3 linked regions of the Homo sapiens genome follow. The protein of the gene in region 1 interacts with the protein of each later gene in a pairwise test. Each region holds a gene or a part of one and is shown on either strand. Other genes may lie near its edges.

What was found.
Region 2: the proteins of ANKRD49 (region 1) and PTCHD1 interact in a two-hybrid assay, tested with the Homo sapiens proteins (one study listed by BioGRID and IntAct).
Region 3: the proteins of ANKRD49 (region 1) and FKBPL interact in binary tests that used the Homo sapiens proteins (3 or more experiments, as listed by UniProt).

What each region holds. Positions count from the first base shown.
Region 1 is NC_000011.10:94,490,087-94,497,139, reverse strand, and holds the start of ANKRD49 (ankyrin repeat domain-containing protein 49), read right to left. Parts: upstream 3,157-7,053; 5' UTR 3,105-3,156; exon of another isoform or gene 2,970-3,104; intron 537-2,969; 5' UTR 447-536; coding exon 189-446; intron 1-188. Other genes in the region: double-strand break repair protein MRE11, read left to right, coding at 4,339-4,358, 6,175-6,307. UniProt on the Homo sapiens protein: Induces HBG1 expression. May have a role in spermatogenesis where it promotes autophagy in response to serum starvation, via the NF-kappaB pathway.
Region 2 is NC_000023.11:23,400,849-23,404,874, reverse strand, and holds the end of PTCHD1 (patched domain-containing protein 1), read right to left. Parts: 3' UTR 501-4,026; downstream 1-500. UniProt on the Homo sapiens protein: Required for the development and function of the thalamic reticular nucleus (TRN), a part of the thalamus that is critical for thalamocortical transmission, generation of sleep rhythms, sensorimotor processing and attention. Can bind cholesterol in vitro.
Region 3 is NC_000006.12:32,128,164-32,134,786, forward strand, and holds FKBPL (FK506-binding protein-like), read right to left. Parts: upstream 2,126-6,623; 5' UTR 1,932-2,125; intron 1,692-1,931; 5' UTR 1,618-1,691; coding exon 568-1,617; 3' UTR 544-567; downstream 1-543. Other genes in the region: ATF6B (cyclic AMP-dependent transcription factor ATF-6 beta), read right to left, coding at 1-44. UniProt on the Homo sapiens protein: May be involved in response to X-ray. Regulates p21 protein stability by binding to Hsp90 and p21.

The sequences.
Region 1 (7,053 bases):
CCTTAAACCCCCAAATAATACCTAGCATGACACTTTGCAGCTTAATATGTGCTTTCATGTACATTGTCTCATTTGGTCCTCACAATCAAGAGATAGGTATGATGGCCATAACAGTAAAGGCAGGTCTTCTGGCTTGAACCCAGTGCTTTTCCTACTGTCACACTTCCCTCTGTAATTTTTTTTTTTACCCGATTTTTTTCAGCAGCCCAAAGAAGCAATCTGCTTGGGTCTTTTTCCATTTTTTTTTCTTGCAATCGATACCACTCTTCATTTTTGTCATCTTGCTCCTCATCTTCATCAGAATTGCCTACCCAAAGACTTTGAGTACCAGTAGGAATAAGGTGTCCATGTGTTTCCAACAATTCAAGTTGGTTAAAGTGTTCAGAAAAATCCAAGGAATTCTCTTGGTCTGGTATTCCATCATCATTTCCTTTTTCTTTTTCCATTTTTTACTACTATTCTAAATAAAAAGCATTTCAAATGCCAGGATATAAATCTTTCTAGAGATGAATTATGACTGCTTTGTTCATCAAGATCTGAAAACACAAATACAAAAGTTATTAGTAAAACAATAATTCAGGCTTTATCAACTGCATAGATAAGTCTTGCAAACATATACAATTAAACCCTGTCTAAACTCTTGTTTTTCTCATGATATCCCTTACATACACTAAATACTGATGCTGACAGAAAACAACAAACTATGATCTAATAGTGGTCTAATGCTTCTTACTTTTGTTGTTTTCTTCTAAGTCAATTATATTATTATAACTATTATTTTTAATCTACTGGTTTAGGTATGATGGTGTTATGCTAACAGTGATGAATGCTTAAAGGTTTTGAAGTATAACTAATACAATGAAGACAGGTGCATTCAAGATTTTTATAAACTAGACACACAGATAATATAGAGCAGAAATAAAAACTTCTAATTCCTAAAAATACTATTTCGAAGAATCAGGGATTCTTGAAGATGGAATAGCCCCCAAAAGGACATCTGTTCCAATCTGTCATCGGTACATATATCTTTATCACAGCATCTACACTAATTATCCTATTTCTACTTTGATAATTTCAGGCCTAGGAAAATTCACTGCTTTAAAAAGTAGTCCTGTTTATTGATAGGCAACTATAGTTCTTAGTTGGGTCCTTGTTTTCAACTGAATTTTGGCTGTCATTCATTCCTTCATTCAACTAATATGAATAGAATGTCTGGTATGTGCCAACTTCTGGGTACTGGGATTCAATAATGAGCAAGATCCATGTCTTCACCTCAGGAAGCTTACTCTAGTGTAGGTGACTGGCAAAGACATCATGTGTCTGGCAAAGACAACATGATAAGTACTACTACAAGACCTTGTCTAGAAACCATGAGTATACAGGAGGTTCATAATTCCCCTAGTCCTAAGGGATTAAAGAAGGCTTCCTGAAGGAACTGATGTTTATTCTGCTAAGCTGCCATATTAATTTTTAAACCAATATCAGCTTAAAGGGTTACACAACATATAAACCTTAATCAATTAAAGAAAAGGAGAATAACCAATAGATAATTTACAAATACGAATTCCCAGCCTCTCAACTCTATTTGTTGAAATATAATCAGTCTTTCAAGGCTCTTCTCTGATGTTATCTCTTTCATTCTTTCTTGATCCTCTCATTTAGATCGCTTTCTGCTTTCTACTTTTTTTGGTGCTACATTTCACCTCTAACTTTGTTCTTGTTTTAGCCCCTTAAAAGATTATAAGCTGAAAGATAAGGACCACATTTAACTTATATTTATCTCCTACTTGTCTATAGAAGGCATTAAGAAGTATGTGTAGCATTACATTTAATTAAAGTCTTGTCACTTGATTTTGCCTGGAATGGATTCTGAGAAGTTCCAGAGTTAGGCATAACCCCAAGATACTGATTTCTTGATACCTAATCTCACAAGTTTAACAGTATACAATCTTAATGTGGTATTAAACTTTATTACTAGTGGCAATAGCACTAAACTCAAGTTTAAATGTATTACTCATGTCCAGTAACTTTTCTGGTCCTGTTACTTTATTGTAAAATGTAAGAATTTTACTAAAGTATTCCTAAGGCCAATCCGGCTTTTCAGTCACCCAATCAGAGACACCCTTGGAATCAGAGATATCCAATCAGAATTGCTCTGTGTTTTATTAATTCTCCTGGAGCTTCCACTTTTTCTTTGATTCTCAAACTAATTCCTGAACCTTGCAACACAAAAATGACCATACATCAATTCATTAAACACTTAACAGATGCTAATAAATAAAAGTTCACTTGTAATTATATCAAATATAGTAACCTTATACCACAGATCTTACCCTCTCCCCCAACATGCTTTTCCTTTCAATAAAAACTCCCTTTATATAAATTTTGAGTTTACAGATCCAGATACAAAAAATTATGTACAAAATTTTACTGGTATATTTAGTTTAAAAAGCCAAGCCTAGGCGCATCTACCCGACTTACAGTTAAGAAACAAAACTGATGACTTGATGATGATATTCCTGATATTCCATCAGGAATGTCAGGGTATGTTTCCTAACTTAAAGGGCATATCCTATTTTGAGAGAGATCCGAACTATGTCAACTCCTTACAAACAACTCAGTGATAGGCGGGGCTATAAACCTTACTGGTGAAGGAGGTTCAGATAGATTAAAACAACTTGCCCTAGATCAAGGACCCTTCAATGGAACTGAAAGGGCAGACGTTCTAATTCAAAAGTTCTACATTATTTTTCGCTGCACTATACATCTTACTGCTCTCAGCACAAAGCAGTGCAGATGTGCTGAACTCAAGGACCTAGGGGCGACACCTGTAGAGGGTCTGGCGACTGGGAGGGAGGGAGAGGGGATCCAGCTCCGGCACTCTGCCACCAGCCGGGAGCTCACAGGCCCGTGAGCTCCGCCTGCGGCCTTCCAAACAGCCAAGAGCGGAGAAGCGGCTTCGGTCCTACCTGGGGACCACGAAGCGGCCTGACCTGCAGGGCTCGGCCTGTGTCCACAGGCTACCCACCCCCACGGGCTCAGGAGTTCTTAGATGGCGCCGGTCCATCAAAAAGCGAGGTCCGGGACAGGGAATAACAACCCACCTGACAGAAGGGAAAATCGCCGCCTTGCATCTCACTTCCGGGTTCGTCTCCTAGCCTGCTCAGGATTGGCTCCTGCGTGAGGGCGGGGCCTCGCCGCTACTTTCCCCGCCCCCTCACTGCGTGCGGTAGCCAATGAGAGCCGAACTGGACTTGAAGCATCTACGTTATCCATGAAGTGTCGCGAGAGAAACGGACGCCGTTCTCTCCCGCGGAATTCAGGTTTACGGCCCTGCGGGTTCTCAGAGGCAAGTTCAGACCGTGTTGTTTTCTTTTCACGGATCCTGCCCTTTCTTCCCGAAAAGAAGACAGCCTTGGGTCGCGATTGTGGGGCTTCGAAGAGTCCAGCAGTGGGGTAATTTAGGAATCGCATTCGTCTCCTGTTTCTGCAGGTTCCCAGGCGGAAGCCCAGAGTTAACTGGAACCTCGGGAAGAGCGGGCCGAGTGGGCAGGGGAGGGGTCCTGGCGGGCTCAGCGTTCTGATTCCGAGGTTCCCTGCGGTGAGGGCGTGTTGAGGCTTGGAATCCCGACGGAATCTGGAGCTCCAGATGTGGTGGGGGTTGTCTCGCGGTGGCAGCCACTCTTCCCCAAACCTGGCTATTTTCAGTCATCCTGCTGGTGCTTAAAGGTGTTCCTCCGCAGACCACGTGTTTGTTTATTTACACTCGCTTTAAACGCGGGCCCGTTCCCTTTTCCAAACTAGCCAGGTCCTTTAAAAAAAATCGTGGGGTTTGAATAGGAAATACAGGATTGCCTCTGTTCTCCAGAGTAACCTATGCGTGCAACTTAAAAATATCTGCACATCTAGAGTTGTTTGTGTGTTGAACCAGAACCGTATGTGACCCTTTCTGCCCATTTATTTAGCATACATTAATTTCCCATAAGAGCACGGGAAAGGAAAATAGGAGTTTAATCATCTTGGTGAAACTAGGAAACAGGATGTACACTGGAGATATATTATTTTCTATGCTCAGTTCATTAAAAAAAAGTATAGTGGGTGCTTAGATGAAAATGAGACTTCTAAATTTGCCAGTCTAATTAAGACGTCTGTACCTTGTGCAGCGTAAATCATGTTGGTTAAATACGTGCAGGCTTTTAAAAAATGTGTTTTATGATGTAATTTTGTTTTTAGAATTTCTAGAATTTGGAATCGAGTGCATTTTCTGACATTTGAGTACAGTACCCAGGGGTTCTTGGAGAAGAACCTGGTCCCAGAGGAGCTTGACTGACCATAAAAATGAGTACTGCAGATGCACTGTAAGCACCTGACTTCTGGAATCCCTTGTTATTTGGGGTTTCTAAAGCTCGTCAACTGTGATCACAGTAAAAGAAAACTTATTTAATAAGCAGTAAATAAGGAACCTGTTTATGAACAGAAATATTAGTCATCAAAAAGGGTATTTGGAATGTTTTAAATATTTATCTGTTTGTTAACTGGAAGCTAATATGCAGCTATAGATTGGAGTCTTGCAGTAATTTGATATATTGATATAGTATTGTTTATGTTCTTAGGCTTCATCTTAAATTATTGAAGTGATAAATATTCTTGAATTTTCCTGACAAATTCTTATTAGTCAATGCAGTTCTGTTTAAGATTTTTAGAGTAAATTCCTCTAGTATTAAATAAGCTGGAAATGAATTTGAATGGAATGGGAATAAATAAAAGGACTGTAAAAGTTATGTGCACTTTGGGAGGCCGAGGCTAGCGGGATCATCTGAGGTCAGGATTTGGAGACCAGCCTGACCAACATGGTGAAACCCCGTCTCTACTAAAAATACAAAATTAGCCAGGCGTGGTGGCGCATGCCTGTAATCCCAGCTACTCAGGAGGCTGAGGCAGGAGTATCATTTGAACCCGAGAGGCGGAGGTTGCAGTGAGCCGAGATCGTAAAAAAAAAAAGTTATGTGGGAAAGACTTTAGACTTGGAGTCTTTTACCCTAGTTTCAAGTCCTTGGACCCTACTAGCTGTGTGACCTTGGGCAAGTCAGCAGTTCTCTGAGCCTTGCCTCAATTTTGCCATTGGTATAATTGGAATAATTATACCTTTTTCAGATTAATTTTGAGGCTTAAATGAGAGAATTCATGAGAAAATACTTCATAAATTGCTACAGAAACATGTAGTATTATGATTTGAAAAGTATCTGACCTACCTTCTTGGATATATCAGTGAGAACTGTGTGCATATCATTTTTGAAGTTTTTGAAGAGAAATCGTTTGTGGAAATATCTTTTGTTTGTAAAGATTTGAATTTTGGAGATATATACAGAGATTTTTTAAAAATTCATTGTGGTTTATTGAAAATAGCCTGAGTTTTCATCATGGGTTTTAGTCCTGTTTCTGTCACTAGTTATGTGATAAAGCAGTTAATTTCTCTGGGTTTAGCCTTCTCATTTGTCAGAGATAATAATGCCTGACTCTTTATCTGTGAGGGTTGAGATGAGATCATAAAAATAAAAGTATTTCATACAATTAAATTTAGTGTAAGAGTATTAATAACTATTACATTGCTACTTCACATTAAAGTACCTTTGAATATTACCAAATTCAAATTGAAACAATTCTGTGTTGGCCAACTTTATTAATGAAATCTAACTCTGTAGAGAGTAGAGTCATGCAAGTGTCTTCAAGGCCCTGAATGTAAATTATTGCATATTAGTATAAAATTGACTCATAAACTTAGAGGAAGGCTTTTTAAATTAACTTCGATTTTCCTGGAAGAGTACGAAGTCAGATAAATAACAAGTTTATTTATCTGAGGAAAACAAGCAAACTTTTGGGCCTGGGTTACATGAGTTTGTAAAACTGGTTATAACAAGGTTATAAATTTTTGAAGCAGTTATAGAACCTTGTAAAGATTTATGTACATTTGTTCTGTATTGAACTAGTGGTTAGGAAAACTGTAATGTTAATGATAACGTTGAATACTTCAGATTTTCAGATGAACTCTAAGGCTAAAAAAAATGATTTTACTCTATAACTGTTATTATTTATTTTATAAGTTTGTCTCAATTTGTTTGAATATCCTTTAATGAATTATTAATATATTGAAATGTTTCTTCTTTCTTAATATAGTGATGATGAAAACACATTTAAAATATTAGTTGCAACAGATATTCATCTTGGATTTATGGAGAAAGATGCAGTCAGAGGAAATGATACGTTTGTAACACTCGATGAAATTTTAAGACTTGCCCAGGAAAATGAAGTGAGTGTGGTTTGTATTTGTGCACTATCTACCATATTCCCTTGGTTAACAAGTTATTTTTCCTTCTAAAGTTAGAGATTTGTTTTATAAGCTCAGGTGCTTACCTTGCCTGCTTGAATATCAATATACTGAAAGCTCAAAGCTGATTTTGTATGCTTTGTGTCTTAAATTCAAGTAGGAGCTACTTTTGTAAATAGTCTGTTAAAATTTACAAATGTTTTTGGGGTGTTTACTGAATGCAGGATCCTGTGGCAGTGTCTATTCGAAATGTAAGGTGACTGTCAAAGCTTCTGCTTTCAGATAACGTAGAAGAAAACTGGTGTGAAAGACAAATATCCACAATCCACAGATGCAAGGTTGTATGTGATAGGAGCCCTAAGAAAATTCTAAATAACATTTCCTTTGAGTTTAGAGGCAGAAAAAATCACGTTTAGATTATAGCAAGATGAGTTTAATGAAGAAGGTTGTGTTTAACTTGGGCTTTGGAGGAAGGGTAGACTTTTGGCCAGTGGGGAGCATAGAGAATGTACATCCATGTGAAGCAGGAGTGAGGAAACCCGTGAGACAGTATAAGGTATGTTAGGGGCCCTGTAGTCAATTTGGCTCACCAGCAGGTCATAGTTAGCAAGCATGCTGAGAGACTAGAAGGAAGGATTTGAGCTGCATTAATGAGGACTTCAAATATCAGATTGAGAAATTTGTATCCAGTTCAAGAGAAAGTCTTTTGGCAGCGGAGTATAATACCA
Region 2 (4,026 bases), on another chromosome or scaffold:
ACAAAACAAAACATAAACAACACTGAAGAACCCATACTAATTACTCTTAAAGAGAAATGAAATACCTGGACATAAAAAAGAAAGAAAAGGCCAGGCGCGGTGGCTCATACCTGTAATCCCAGCACTTTGGGAGACCGAGGCGGGTGAATCACTTGAGGTCAGGAGTTCAAAACCAGCCTGGTCAACATGGTGAAACCCCGTCTCTACTAACAATACAAAATTAGCTGGGCGTGGTGCACATCTGTAAATCCAGCTGCTTGGGAGGCTGAGGCAGGAGAATCGCTTGAACCCAGGAGACAGAGGTTGCAGTGAGCCAAGATCACGCCATTGCACCCCAGCCTGGGTGACAGAGTGAGACTCTGTCCCCCCCCCCCAAAAAAATCAAACTGGAGATATTCCCCTGGCCCACCGACATTTGACTCTTTGTTGTGTGCTTAGTAGAGGATTAGAAATAAACCCGAAAAAGTGAAAGCAAAAAGAGAAATATGTGAGATGATAGATATGTTAATTAGCTTGATTTAATCATTCCACAATGCATACATATATCAAAACATCACATTGTATCCCATAAATATATACAATTTTTATGTCAATTAAAAATAAATGAATAAAAAAGAAAAGGTGAAAGCAATACATTTGAAATCTCCTTTACATTCGAAATTTGATATCAGTATTGAAAACAGGATGCTTCATTGGAAGATGGGATTTTAATATGAAAAGATAGTCAACTAAGGACTCCATGTATTTGGCATGAGCCATTTCCCAGGTGACTTGGGGGCTTCTACATTGTATAAACTCGATGTGCAAGCATGAAAGATCGCCCTCTGGTGAAAGCTGGTCAGATGGAGAGGAACGGTGGAATTGCCAATCATCAGTGGGATGGTTTTCCCTGCTGATTTTGTTTCTGTGTAGGTGTGGGATGATTTAAATGCATATTTTAGGCATTAGAGAAACTCAAGTAGTACAAAATACCGGATTTTTTTTTTCCTGAAAGAGTTGGCCGTTTTTTATTACCTTGATTTTTTAAACTATCTTTAAAAGGGAAAAATACTGTACATATTTGCCTCAAATGTAACAAGTTTAGTCATATTTTTATAGATATTAAGAAATGCAGGGGTCTGGGGTGGCATACACAGCCTCTTCAGATAAAACATTTCTGTTTATATCCACGAACCATTCCCCTGTAGATACTGCAAATAAGCAGTAGAAACATCTAGGCTTGTTAATGTTCAGAAGGGCCTTGCTATGATGATGTAGAGGGTACCAAAAAAGATCTGTGTGTCTCTTGACTTTCGGTAAAAATTAGAGTTTATTAATGCCCCTTGCTGCAAAGTATTACAGCTCTTTGTGGGAAATTGTTCTGGGTACATTTTTGATTAAATTCCACCCTGAGCACGTTCTGCCTTTCCTGGAGAAAAGTGATGTGACTCACATTTTTTAAAGCTTTAGGTTTGACTATTATTTTTTTCTAGTAGGGTTTTATGCTTATCTGTCTCAAAACTGACCAAGCTGAACTCATTATGTGCTCTAGCATTTGGATACTTTTTCCTAGTTTGAAAATAGTTTATTATGACCAGAATCACCCACTTGCCTAAGTGTGAAGAAACCCAACTAAAATACTGGGAAACACAACATTAACTATGGGGTCTTTTTGGAGGAACAGATGATAAGGTTTCTGAATACTGAATTAGTGGTTACTTTGACAAGCTGTGGTCTTACGATCTATTGCCATGGAAGCAACTTAAAAATGTATTGTGATTTAGCCCAAAACTTTACAATGTAATATGCAATTTCAGGAACTTCTTTCACTAGCAATGACAATAAGAGAGGGGCCATGTTTAAATGTTTAAACTATTTTATGTCTAGGGTGAGGATCTTTTCCAACATTACTAAATATTCAACATAGCTTCTCTTCTTTTTTGTTTTCTCACCTACTACAATTGGACTGTTAAAGCAACATTGAACAGTTATCACTATTTTGTCATTAATAATTATTGGCAGAGATTATCTTTGCTGTTAAAAATACTAAGAGCATTGGCTATGTAGACATATTTTTTACAACTTTGAAACCTTTGTACATTTAGAGGAATGAGAGAAGTTTGATCAAGAAATTACTAAAACCAAGCTGAAATTTCTTTTGTTTGGGCCTAGCATTCAATAATTCAATAATTTTGCTCAAGGGTTCTAAGCTGGATTGTAAACCACAACAAATAGTGGGTGGTTGTATTATGGGATCATAAACAATAGGAAGAGAACTTGAGTGTATTCAAAGCTGCTGAAGAGGAATTATAGGTCAATAATTCAAAAGAGAATATGGGGTCTCTTTATTCAGAAAAACATAGATTCAGGCTCTGTATCTTTATCTTATAGACAATCCAGAACAATTTACATTATCCTCAGCTCATATTCAGTCATTCCTCACATATTTGATTGTTTTCAGCTTCCCAGTAATTACTTTTTCCCTGTTATACTCTATGCCAAGGTTTTTTGGGGGAACTGCACTAGGGTTCCTCTTAATGTCCCCTCCCATCCACTCTGTGTGTGTGTGTGTGAGAGAGAGAGAGAGAGACAGAGAGTTTGGTATAAGCTTCTAAGCTTCTAGTCTTGGATAGTTCTTCTGTTGCTTGTGTGACTGTTCTTCTAAATGGATGTTGCCTATCACCAGGCCTCCATGCATGGCACTTCCTTTCCTTGAGGTTGATGAAATGCACCGGTTTTCCCGTCAAACTGATGCTAGGGATCAATGGAAACTGCCCACTTCTTCCTAAGACGAGGAGTTGGCAATTTGGAGGGATCACCCCATATATTCTTCCTCACCACTTCTTTCCCCCTTCTCTGGATCACCAAGCAAATATTCTAAATAAATTTCCACAATTCCATACCTTGGAAGAGATCTCTGTCGTTTTGGGTCTATGCTATTCTTCTTGCTTATGACTTGGAAAATTCCAACAAATGCAATTTTCCCACTGTGAAACTGTTAGCAATTTTTAAATTGCAAGGCACATTCACTTTTCCAGGTTTCTTTTCTTTAAAGCTTACTATTTGGCTGCTCTTAGCTGTGCTCGTGCATAAGAAACATATAGAAGGGGAAGATAACATTTTTTCAATGGTATCCTGCAGACATCCGAAGCCTTTGGCCTGCCAAACCTTACAGAACTATAGGGCTGGGCCTGCCAAGGCATTTTAATGTGCCTCAAATGTGTCAGGCATATTGTAAAAGGTGGTGTGCATGTGTATGTGTGCATGCACATCTGTGATATGTGTGTATGTAAGCATGTGCATATGTACAGGTATATGTTTCTATGTTTTATAGTTGTGTTGTACACACATATATGCATGTGTACATTTATGTGTGTCAATGTGTATGTGTGTGTGTGAAGCAGAGCCAACGGGTCATTACCAGTTTGCCCAGTCACCCACAGTCCTGGGAGGCATCGTGGCAACTGCCTTGGTGATTCTGGATCAGTGCGTAAAGGCAATTTTGACAGGATGGTAATTTAAAGAATAAATATCTGAAAGGCTGAGCTAAACATGTTCAAGATTCATCCTAGAAAATTAAGGAAATTGTTTTGTCAAAGAGAACGTTATTAGTTTTCCTGAGCATGAGCCTGGAATGAGTAATGGAAATGGGCTGGGTCTTTGCCATTTTGCAGGAATTAGACAAAGCACTTTGTTGATCCTAATGAACAAAGCCCTTGCCGGGCACGGTGGCTCACGCCTGTAATCCCAGCACTTTGGGAGGCCGAGGCGGGTGGATCACGAGGTTAGGAGATCGAGACTATCATGGGTAACACGGTGAAACCCCATCTCTACTAAACACACACACACACACACACACACACACACACACAATTAGCCGGGCGCGGTGGCGGGCACCTGTAGTCCCAGCTACTCAGGAGGCTGAGGCAGGAGAATGTCGTGAACCTGGGAGGTGGAGCTTGCAGTGAGCTGAGATGGCGCCACTGCACTCCAGCCTGGGTGACAGAGTGAGACTCCATCTCAAAAAAAAACAAACAAACAAACAAA
Region 3 (6,623 bases), on another chromosome or scaffold:
CGCGTCGGGTCAGCAATCTCGCTGAGCAGCATCAGCTCCGCCATCTTTCCCCCCCACCCCCCAACCAGGAGACGGTTCCCAAGGCCCGCCTCTCCCCATCACCAACTAATCAGTTGACTCTTTCAAAAAAGGGGGCGTCCCGGAAGCTCTACCGACCAGTAAGAGACCTGGGTGCTGAGCACGTGAATCAACAGATGCGGATGACTGTGTAGGCGGGCCCAATGGGAGCACAGCAGCAGGAAGTAACTTCCAGACAGTGCCATACCGCCAAGCGCATGCGCCAAACAGGCTCCAGTGATAAAGCGCCTGGGAGATGTAGTACCCAGTATTAAGGTCCACCATCTCCCCCAGCCACTACTAAGTTTAGTTTAGACAGCTTCTATGTGTCCTCGGAGATAGATAAGCCCCTCAAAAGGGGCGCACTGTGACCACTGCTACCTCCCCTAGGAAGCCAAAAGCTGAGAATGGGATATGGGCTGAAACCTTCCCTCTGGCCCCCCACCCCCAAATCTCACAGCACAGACCACAATTCACAAGTTCCTGTCTCTTTTAAGGTTTAACTTTTAATCAGCCAAACATCTTGCGCAGACCCTGAGCCAGCCCTGCATCCTGGTTCTTCCCCTGAATGACCACCTTCCCCAGTTCCTCCTGGGCTGCCCGGTTTTTGGGATCTATCGCCAGCACCTTCTTGAGGTCAGCAGTTGCTTTTTCCAGGTTCCCAAGGGCAGCCTGGGCAACCCCCCTTCGGTATAAGGCCTTTAAATGGCCAGGCTCCCGCTCCAACACCCGGTCACAGCTCTGGGCTGCCAACTGAGGCTGCCCTAGCAACAACTGACAGGCAGCCAGATTGGCATGAAGGACAGTTCGTTCTGGAGGGCCAGGTGGGGGTAAAGTCAGGAGCAGCCGAAGAGCCCGTCCATAGCATCGGGCAGCTCCTTCAGGGTTCCCAGCTCGAAATAGTTCTGTGCCCCTTGCACGTTCTTCCCTGGCCAGGGCTTCCTTCTCGCTAGTCTCCAGCTCCCAGGAGTCTCGGCCTTGAGTGAAGGATGCCAGTGTGAGCCTGACAGGAGGTCCAGAGTGCCCAGGCAGCTGAAGCTCTGCTTCCTCACCTTGACACATGGACTCCAAGCATTTCTCTATGAGCTCCCCCCAAGTTTCCTCCCTCCATGGCCCTACGCCCATAGTTAGCTCTGTCCAGCCCTCTGGCGGCCCTGATCCGAAAGGAAACCCCAAAGCCAGTACCCGGCAGCAGGAGCCTAGTTTGGGTTTGTCCAAGCCATGGCCACGGATTACGATCTTCTTGACAAAGCTCCCATCGGGGCAGTACCAGAGATCAGAAGCTTGAAGGGCCTCTGGCATCTGACTGGTTGATCCATGAGACTTATGAGAGTCTCCTTCAAGTTCAGCAACCAGTTTTTCAGCTCCTTGAGTATGCTCTAGAATTTGGCTGGCTGGATCTGGGCTTACTTCCAGCTCAAGCGTTTCGGTAGGAGGGTCTCGGGGCTGCTGCCTAATCTGAATAACTGAATCAAGGTTCTCCCGAAGGTTCTTTTCCCACTCTTGTTGCGGCTGAGAGGTGTCCTTTTCTCCAATTGTATTGACTGGTGGCGTCTCCATATGGATGCTTAGTCCCTTCCACGGTGAGTGAACAGTTTTGGTCAGAAAGGGATGAACCAGGTTCAGGTCAGCACCTGAAAAGAAAACCAAACAATGCTAATAGCAGGGTTCTTATTTAGACTCCTTTCTCGTCCTTTCCCATTCTTCTGAGACCCAGGCCCCTAGTCCTGAAAGTCCCCAGTTTTGCTTTCCTCCAAAAATCTGCTCCAGCTTCCCCGTTCCACCCACATATAATTTAGAACTATAAATTCCACAATTCCCTGCGGTTAAGGTAGCCGCGCCAACTACGGACACCCGGTCGGGTCAATAAGTACCTGCGCGGCCAAAGTGCCTAGCATGGTGACAGGAGGAGCCGGGCCATTCGAATCACCTCTCCTTCCAAAGCTAAATGGCTACTGAATGCTGCCCTCGGAGCCTTGCCCCACGCGGAGAGGGCAGCCGGAGAGGGGCGCGGTGCGGGAGGCGGGGGTAGGGGGCGGAACAACTGGGAAAGATACTGACAACTAACCCTGGAGCCCGCGAGACTCCGAATCTAGTCAAATTCCTGGCAGCCAATCGGGAGAAGGGAGGAATCTGGTTAGCCCGCCTATTGAACGTGACATCATTTCCTCCGCAACCATGAAGCTCCAGGCCTTAGCAACTGAACTAGGCCAGAGCAACCGAACTAGGCAGAATCGAACAGAATTTGGCGCGGTCGGGCTGGCCAGGCTGCTCAAGAGTCAAAGTGGGCCAACATGGTGAGACCCTGTCTCTACTAAAAATACAAAAATTAGTAGGTCATGGTGGCGCGCGCCTGTAATCCCAACTACTCGGAAGGCTGAAACAGGAGAATCGCTTGAACCCGGGAGACAGACGTTGCAGTGAGCCGAGATCACACCATTGCACTCCAGCCTGGGCGACAGAGCGAGACTAGAGACTCCGTCTCAAACAAAAAAAAAAAAAAAAAAAAAAAAAAAAGGTGGGCCGGGCGCGGTGGCTCACGCCTGTAATCCCAGCACTTTGGGAGGTTGAGGTCAGGAGTTCAAGACCAGCCTGGCCAACATGGTGAAACCCCGTCTCTACTAAAAATGCAAAAATAGCTCGGCGTGATGGCGGGCGCCTATATCCCAGCTACCCAGGAGGCTGAGGCAGGAGAATGGCTTACCTGGGAAGCGGAGGTTGCAGTGAGCCGAGATCGCGCCATTGCACTCCAGCTTTGGCAACTGAGACTCTGGGAGGCTGAGGTGGGCGGATCACGAGGTCAGGTGATCGAGACCATCCTGGCAACATGGTGAAATCTCGTCTCTACTAAAAATACAAAAAGTTAGCTGGGCATGGTGGCGTGTGCCTGTAATCCCAGCTACTTGGGAGGCTGAGGTGGGAGAATCGCTTGAACCAGGGAGTCGGAGGTTGCAGTGAGCCGAGATGGTGCCACTGCAATCCAGCCTGGCGACAGAGCAAGATTCCCGCCTCAAAAATAAATAAATAAATAAATAAAAAGCCGGGCATCGCGCACGCCTGTAATCCCAGCAATTTGGGAGGCCGAGGCGGCGGGGGGGGGCGGGGCGGGGGGAGGGGGCGGGGCGGCGGGGGGATCACTTGAGGTCAGGGGTTCGAGACCAGCCTGGACAACATGGTGAAACCCCGTCTCTACTAAAAATACAAAAAATTAGCTGGGCGTGGTGGCGGGCACCTATAGTCCCAGCTACCCGGGAGGCTGAGGCAGGAGAATGGCATGAACCCGGAAGGCGGAGCTTGCGGTGAGCCAAGATCGTGCCACTGCGCTCCAGCCTGGGCGACAGCGCAAGACTCCGTCTCAAACAAACAAACAAACAAACAAAAAGTCAAAGTGTAGAGAAGTCCTGGAATGGAGACTGGGGGCGGATGACAATAGAGTGGAGAATGGCAGAGGTCGTGGTAAATGATAGTGGCAGCAGCCTTTTATCTGGAGACTTCAGGCCCTCCTATGCTAACTATCTTTATGTTCAGAGCTCATTCAGTACAGGGTGTTCTCCAGGATAAAACCTCGGGACTCTCTCTCCAACCGGCCCTGTCCCTTGGGTGACTACCTGAGGCTTCTCTTTACCTTTCCTTTCACATCCATCATTGCCTTTCAAGTCCTCCTTCATCAAGAAATCTTAGTGCTTTTCAAACATAAGTGTGCATACATATCACCTAGGGAACTTGTTAAGTTGCAGATTATGATTTAGGAAGTCTGTTGTGGGGCCTGTGATTCTGCATTTCAATAAGCTGGTTAATGCAGATGCTGCTGGTTCATAAACCGTATGTTTTTCTTTTTTTTTTTTTTTTTTTAGAGAGATGGGGTCTGCTGTGTTTACCAGGCTGGTCTCAAACTCCTGGCCTCAAGCCATCATCCCATCTCAGCCTCCCAAAGTGCTGGGATTATAGGTGTGAGCCACCACACCCAGCAATGAACCAATGGGATGAGATTCTAGAACAGTCTCATCCCATTGTCTTCTCCCCTGGCTCTGTGCCCCTTTAGTTTATCCTACATTTTACATGTATAACTGGTGTGACCTGCTCCACTGGATGTTGCAGGTTCTCCTCCTAATAGAAGATGTAGAGACCTATTGTGATTCAGTCTTGCTTGTCCAGCTACCTACACAGCCTGGGCTACCACAGTTCTCCAGGAAAGAAGGATCCCTCTCTTGAGTACCTCACTTTGGCTCCCTCTTAAGTTTGCTCTCACCATTGTGCCTCAGACTATAAAAACCATGCCAGGACAGCCAGGAAGGGAGACGGTTTCATCATTAGCCAAAGACTTGTGTCAAAACAATTCTCTCCCTGGTTTTGTTTGTTTGTTTTTGTTTTTTTGTTTTTTGTTTTTTTTGAGACGGAGTATCACTCTGTCACGCAGGCTGGAGTGCACTGGCGAGATCTCGGCTCATTACAACCTCTGCCTCCCAGGTTCAAGCGATTATCCTGCCTCAGCCTCCCAAGTAGCGGGGATGACAGGCACCTGCCACCATGCCTGGCTAATTTTTGTATTTTTAGTGAAGATGGGGTTTCACCATGTCAGCCAGGCTGGTCTCAAACTCCCGACCAGAAGTGATCTGCCCACCTCGGCTTCCCAAAGTGTTGGGATTACAGGCGTGAGCCACGGCGCCAAGGCAGGCGGATCACTTTAGGTCAGGAGTTTGAGACCAGCCTGGCCAACATGGTGAAACCCCGTCTCTACTAAAAATACAAAAATTAGCTGGTGTGGCGCATGCCTGTAGTCCCAGCTACTCAGGAGACTGAGGCAGGAGAATCGCTTGAACCTGGGAGGCGGAGGTTGCAGTGAGCTGAGATCGCGCCACTGCACGGAGGCCGAGGCGAGCGGATCACAAGGTCAATATGGTGAAACTCCGTCTCTATTAAAAATTCAAAAATTAGCCTGGCGTGGTGGCACACGCCTATAGTCCCAGCTACTTGGGAGGCTGAGACAGAAGAATCGCTTGAACCCAGGAGGCGGAGGTTGCAGTGAGCCAAGATCACACCATTGCACTCCAGCCTGGGCGACACAGCAAGACTCTGTCTCAAAAAATAAATAAATAAATAAACACAAATACAAATATAGGCATTGAAACCCCTAAAAAAAACCTAATCCAAATCATCATGTATGAAAATATTTCTCTTTTTAAAAATATGGCCCATCAAGAGGTAAGCACAAACTTAAAGTTTTAGAAGAGTTCCCCAGAGAAGATAGCCATGGACCTGTAGATTCCCCCTAGTCTTAACTTGAGAAACACAGGACTAGGAAGGGACCAACAACCTGTGAAGATTCAGAAATAGGAAAGAGTGGCCAGGCGCAGTGGCTCATGCCTGTCATCCCAGCACTTTGGGAGGCCAAGGTGGGTGGATCACTCGAGGTCAGGAGTTTGAGACCAGTCGGGCCAACATGGTGAAACCCCGTCTTTACTAAAAATACAAAAATTAGGCTGGTGTGGAGGTGTGTGCCTGTAGTCTCAGCTACTTAGGAGGCTGAGGCAGGAGAATCGCTTGAACCCGGGAGGCAGAGGTTGCAGTGAGCCGAGATCACACCACTGCACTTCAGCCTGGCGACAAAGTCGCCTTATCCAATTTCCTTTCCTTTCCTGAGGTAGAAAGGAATTTGAGAAATTCTGTCTCAAAATAATAATTTGTAAAAAAAGAAATAAGAAAGAGTATAGGCTCTCCCCCAAAGTGTAGATACTACATGCTTGTTGACTGACTCACACTATCTCCCTCAAGTCTAATTGTGCCAGAGCTCAGCTCTTTGGAGGCAGTCATCAAGGAATCAAGACGAAAGAGAGCCACAAACCAGGAAGATTATATCCTTAAGCCTGGCTAGAGAACAAGACATTTGAGAAAGATACATAAAGAGGATGACAAGTGAAATTTGCTTATCTGTTGGGATAGATGCTTGGACTGGAAAGTGGGGAAACAGCAATGTCTCTCTCCTCTCCCTTTCCCCTAAAGATTTGAGAATGAAATGGAAGATGAGCAGGCATGAGAGGAAGAGATGAAAAGGAATCTTCTTCCCCAAGGGACTGGATCCAGTCTCTTCTTGTCACTACAAATTGTCCTCTGCTCCCTCTCTTCCTTTGGTGTTGCAGGGACCAACATCACCAATACCTCCAGAAATCGTGTGAATGCAAATGGGACATACTTACCCCGTCTTGCTACACAGAAACCTCTCGAAAAGTGAGACTCTGGGTTAAGAAGGTCAAAGAGGGCCAGGTGCAGTGGCTCACGCCTGTAATCCCAGCACTTTGGGAGGCCAAGGTGGGCAGATCACATGAGGTCAGGAGTTCGAGACCAGCCTGGTCAACATTGTAAAACCCCATCTCTACTAATAAAATATAAAAATTAGCCAGGTGTGGTAGCGGGCGCCTGTAATCCCAGCTACTTGGGAGGCTGAGGCAGGAGAATCGCTTGAACCTGGGAGGCAGAGGTTGCAGTGAGCCAGGATCACACCATTGCACTCCAACCTGGGCAATAGTGTGAAACTCCGTCTCAAAAAAAAAAAAAAGGTCAAAGAGACA